Linked DNA regions of Homo sapiens: region 2 is linked to region 1. The links come from fine-mapping of genetic effects on gene expression. A gene starts in region 1. The other region holds a variant in brackets. All regions are shown on one strand. Distances are between the middles of the regions.

Evidence for each region. PIP is the estimated chance that this variant, and not a neighbour inherited with it, causes the effect.
Region 2: its variant is the best candidate, but not a certain one, in a credible set for the expression of NHIP in testis (GTEx, PIP 0.61).

The regions. Positions count from the first base shown.
Region 1 is chr22:49,051,003-49,053,909 of GRCh38, reverse strand. It overlaps NHIP (neuronal hypoxia inducible, placenta associated), which reads left to right and starts at 1,525. Exons shown (of 4, transcript NR_183584.1): 1 at 1,525-2,907. RefSeq lists an enhancer at 1,479-1,558.
Region 2 is chr22:49,030,727-49,033,633 of GRCh38, reverse strand. No RefSeq gene overlaps it. Among named protein-coding and RNA genes, the nearest start is that of NHIP, 20 kb to the left of the region's middle. The variant C/T (reference allele first, on the strand shown) is at 1,271.

The sequences.
Region 1 (2,907 bases):
ATTATTACTAATATTTTTTACAAACAAAAATAAAAATATATTTGGCTTTGTGGGATAGTCTCTGTTGCATCTCCTCTTCTCTGCTGGATTGGTCAGAAAGCGAACACAGGCAGTATGAAAATGAAGAGGTGTGGCTCTGTTCCCGTAAGCTACGGTTAGCAGAAATCCCTCATTTACATGAAAATGTGTCACCTTTAACATATGTAGGAAGTAAGAAAAACTTTAAAATAAAGCTTGACTTAAAACATCAGAGAATAACAGAATAAACCTAAAGAAGCTAATGAATAGAAAATCTATAATTATGTCCTTAAATTCATAAAAACAGACACCAAGAAATAACAGAGAGGACCACTGTCTTATTCTGTTTTCTGCTGCTGTAATGAAATGCCACCGGCTGGGTAATTTATAAAGAAATGAGATTTATTTCATTCGCAGTTCTGGAGACTACAAAGTCCAGGACAATGGTGCTGGCATCTGGCAAAGGTCATCCCATGGGAGAAGGATGGAGGGCAGGAGCCAGGGCCTGAGTCCGAGCAGGAGAGGCCAGGCTCACTTTAGAAACCCCACTCTTGAGGTAACAAACCCACTCTCTCGATAATGACATTAATCTGTTTATGAGGGTGGAAGCCTGATATGGTTTGGCCGTGTCCTCACCCAAATCTCATCTTGAATTGTAGCTCCCATAATCCCCATGTGTCATGGGAGGGAGCCAGTGGGAGGTAACTAAATCATGGGGGTGGTTTTCCCCCAGGCTATTCTGACAGTACTTTCTCACGAGATCTGATGGTGGTTTTTTTTTTTTTTTTTTTTTTTTTGAGATGGAGTCTCGCTCTGTTGCCCAGGCTGGAGTGCAGTGGCACGATCTCGGCTCACTGCAACCTCTGCCTTCTGGGTTCAAGCGATTCTTCTGCCTCAGCCTCCTGCCTGGACTGGTATAGACACAAATGTGCTAACACTGAGTCTGAAAACACTTCCTTGGATCTTGGATCTAAACTCTCACTGCTTCTCTTCTGATTATAAACCATTTCACAGCCCCCGGCAGTTCAGAAGGCCCTGAGCCCAGGCGGGAACTCAGACTGAATTGCGATGTCATTCAGGCATTAAAAGCACGCATGGGCTCAGAGTGCTGCTTGCTTGACGTTTCCCGTCTGTGAAGCAATTTTATTTAAATTCTACGCAAAATAGAACCCTTTGCTCTTCTTCCCAGAGTCCTGCCCGGTGGGAAGTTCGCTGGAGGCGCAGCAGGGAGCAGCCTGGCTTTTCCTACGGGGTCATTAGAAGCCTCGCTGGGAGAATTTCCCAAATATTTTGCTGTTTGCTCAAACACACTTTTATATTTTGAATCCAGGCATTTGAGAGAGAAATCTGTAGCGTCTGAAGCATGGGTCTGTGGTTCTCAGCGGAACACACGGTCCCAAAAGGCCCTTCCCAAGATGGCCGGGGCTTCCGCCTGCCGCCCTCCCTCCCGTGGTGCTGAGCGCAGGCTGGGCGCGGCCACATCACCCTAAGGGCGTGGGTGTCGGAGTCTTGCAGGCTGGGGTCCCAGGTGAGAGATGCCAGCAGGGAGCTCTAGATGGGGAACTGGGTGAGCCTGGCTCGGTAAGGGCGTGCTCAGAACACCCCATCCCCGAACACGGTCTTGTGTGATAAAATGTCACGCAAGAAGAATCTGAAACCGCGAGAAGAGGAGGACACGGCCAGACTGCACCGAACCCCGGCACCTCTGTGGGGAAAAGCAGGTCAGGCTGAGCGGGGCCGGCGGGGACACGCGCTCCTGGGCTTCTCCAGAGTCTGCCGGGGCCGGGCCCGGGACCGAGGCTGGGACGCGCTGTGCAGTCCCACCCCTCACACCCCTCGCACGCCTGGAAACACCCTCGGGGTAACACAAGCCGGGGTTGAGTTTCTTGAAGAGAAGCTGGCTGCATCCTGGAGCCAGGGAAAGAGGAGCACAGGGGCCAAGCGGTCCAGGGCCACGGAGGAGCAGGACCCCTGGGGAAAGGCCCGGGTCTAGGCCGGGGCCAGGGGACCGTGGTGGAGACCTCAAAAATGGCAGAACACGGAAGCAGGGCGAGAAAAGTAAACGTAGTCCTTGCGGCAGTTTGAAATACACGCGGGTAAACGCTGGGTGACTCCGCCCGGATGCAGAGTGGGGGTCTGTGTCTCTCCCCACAGGCTGCAGGGACCGGGCTCTGGGTAACCAGCAGAAGGTAACAGAACGAGGCTGCTTTTCCTCCAGGCTGTTCTGGTGTCCGCGCGTGGCTTGTGCGCTGACTCCTGACTTGGAGCGCCGCGTGGCCAGAGAAATCTGGGTGCCTCCAGGCCACCATGGTGAGAGGAGAGGCCACCGCACGAACGGAAGAAGCGATGGAGACGGTCTTTACGACCTAAGAACAGAAAGAGTTTCTTATACACAATCCGAAAAGTAAAAATTGATTGATTGATTGATTGAGATGGAATCCCACTCTGTCGTCCAGGTTAGAGTGCAATGGCTTGATCTCGGCTCATTGCAACCTCCGCCTCCCGGGTTCAAGCGATTCTCCTGCCTCAGTCTCCCGAGTAGCTGGGATTATAGGCGCCCGCCACCACGACTGGCTAATTTTTATATTTTTAGTAGAGACGCAGTTTCACCGTGTTGACCAGGCTGGTCTTGAACCCCTGACCTCAGGTGATCCGCCTGCCTCGGTCTCCCAAAGTGCTGGGATTACAGGCGTGAGCCACCGTGCTGGGCCAAAAATCAATTTTAAAACGACCACATGAAAAATAAATCTCCTGTATCACAGAGCATGTTCTGAGGAAAATGAAAGCCACAGATCCAGAAGATATTTGTGACACATATGAAAAACAAAAACTCATATTCAAAACATACACAGCATTGCTATGAATCATTAAGAAAAATGATTTCGTCTC
Region 2 (2,907 bases), 20 kb after region 1:
GATTTCAAAACTGGCCACGATGTCTCTGGGTCGGTGGTGGGCTCCTGTCTGTGAGATCCAGCATCTTACACTTCACACCCCAAGTTTCAGGGGAGAAGGGCGGAAAGAGATGCCTCTCTTAGGGAAACCAGGGAGAGAGGGGTGAAGACGGCCACCATCACCAAGTGTACTGCGTGTCCACCTATCCACATACGTCGACTAATTACCCCCAACTAAATACGGATTATTGCGTCTGTTCCACAGAAGATAAAACTAAGGACCAAAGAGGCTCCCCAAAGTCCCACGGCCCCCCAGAGGGTGCGGGCCGGGTGGGAATTTAAACTGGTCTTTCTGTCTCCAGGGCTGGAGCCAGGCTCTGAAGCTGCCTTGCCCCCTCCAACCTTGTTCCTTTTGGGAGTTGGTCTCCCTCCAAGCACGCTGATCTCTCCCCTCCTTTCAGGAGGCCAGTCCTACCAGCCCCCCGCACACAGCGGACTCGGTGCTGCCAGACCGCAGCACACAGACTCCCCAGAAATGTCTTTCCCAGGCCCAGATACTTGATTTCACCACGTGGCCCTCAGCGGAGGCTGCGTTCCTGCTCAGCCTCTGCCTTTTGGCTGCAGGGCAGCCTGGCGAGCGTGGTCTCCACCAAGCACTTCCCTGTACCTCAGCAGCCGACAGTGGCATTTGGGGACCTTGTTTCTGGGGAGCCTGTGGCAATGCGTCTCTCCTGTCTCAGGGACACACCAGCCGTCTTCCTCTGAGGCCCCTGGGGCAGGTCACACCGCTCAGTGGGTCCGCCCGGCAATGGCAAGTCTGTGTCCTCTGCCGGCCCGGGGTGTCTGATGTCCGGGAGAGGACTTGGGAGAAGAGTCTTTTGTTAGCAAAAGGTCACAGGGACGCTCACCTTTGCAGTGCACCAAGAAGACAAAGGCTGTCCTCGGCATCCGGAGCATCCGTATAATTCATGCCCACAGCAGGGATTGAGCCTTCTGAAAAATGCAAACTCACGGCTCCAAACTGCTGGCTGAGGATCATGGGATGAGGAGGCAGGGAGAGTTTACTGAGATTCCGGGCATTTTCTAAACTCCCTGCTCTGCAGTGCTGTGGGGGGACGCAGGATTCTCCTGCTCTGCTGGCAGGGGTGGCCCAGCTGTGCGTACCAGGAGCCCGGCAGCCTGCTCCATCTGCCTGCTCACTTGCTACGGGGCGTCCCCGGCCTCCCTGCCCCTGCTAACACGCTGCTGGTGGTCCCAGCACCCTCCGGCCTGGACTCACTTCCCTCCATGCC[C/T]GGCTCTCCAGGGGGCTCCTACGCACCCTCCCTGGCTCAGGTCCAGGGCAGAGACCCCAGTGAAGTCTCCAAGGTGGCCCTGCTTTCCCTCCTCCTTCAGAACTGCTCCCACCCGCCTGCAGGCCCCAGGCATCTTCTCCCATGGAGGCTACTGCTCTGCTCCACACCCACCCCGGCTCCCATATGCAAGCCCAGGGAAGCATCTGCCTAGGGATCAAGCTGAATCCACTGCCTATGTGTGGCATGGAGGCCCATGTGCCCACCCCTCTGATGGGCACTGCCAAGGGGTCCATGGAGAAGAGGCAGAGTCCCTGTCCAGGGCCCTAAGCCTTCATTGAGGGAAGAGGCCCCCGAGGCATCAGGCATCAAGGCAGCAGGCAGACCTACCCCCTCGGATGGCTGCATGGACACCAGGGCAGGGGGTGACTGGGGCCTCGAGGGCTGGAGCAGGGAAGGCTTCATGGAGGAGGGGGTATTTGGATACACCTTGGTGAATGGGGAAGAGTTGATGGGGAGAAAGGTAGAGGGAAGACAGGGAGGAAGGAAAAGTGGAGGGCATGACGGTGGGAAGGGCTGGGCATCCATGCTGACAGCTGGAGGGGGAAGGAGAAACATGGCTTTAGAATTGGGTGAGGGGCACCCTGACCCCACTCATCCCCCAGATGGCCACCCCTCTGGGGCTTCTGAGTCCAAGGGAATGTGTCTGTTTAATATTAATAGACATTTTCCATTTATTTCCAAAGAAAGGCTGCAAATCTAATTGTCACCATCAATGTCAGGAGCTCTTGTTGCCTTGTATTTCCCCTGACAATTATTTTAAGCATTGCCAATCAAATATGTGAAAGACAGCAAGTCAATCAGACACATAATTATTCATAAAAATGAGTTTGAACTTCTATCAACAGTTCCTCTTCTTTAAATTGCCTATTTACACCCCTCATTAATTTTGCATTTTGCTGTTAGAACGTGTCCTGTTTGTTTCTGTGCATGCCTTGCCTATGGTGGACATTTGACTTTGGGGTTTCTGAACTTGCTCCCGGGCCCTTCCTTCAGCAAGAGCCAGACCAGCCTCACTTTCAACACCTGTGAAGTTGTGGGGTGCTCGGACCTTGATTGCCTGTCTACCGCCTGTGATGACTGTATTCCCTGGGGTGTGTGTGACATTCATACACACCCATGTGCACACACATACATGTATGTGCACACACCAAAGGCATTGAATGCCTTGATGTCTAGGATGTGAATTTCAGAGAGCCTGGGCCAGCATTTCCGGGAAGGGTTGGCATCTGTGAAGATCACAGTTACAAACACACTTGAGAGGTCTCTTCTCAGCTGGCTTCTGAATTTTCATCTTCTCATGCTTTTAGTAACGGCACAGAGTAAGCATATTACACTAGCAAAGTGTGACTCTTAGGATGACTGGATATAAAACGACCAAAAAGAAACCATTTTTTTTTCTACACTAGCAGCAAACAGTTAGACATGGAACTGGATAATAATCTCCCATTCAAAAATGGCAGCATAAGCCATACACACTGCAGGGAACTAAATGAAAAAGGCACAGATCTCATAAGAAGAAAAATATGAAATGGTGCTGATAGCCTAAGAGAAAGACCTGAATGAATAGAAAGAAATTT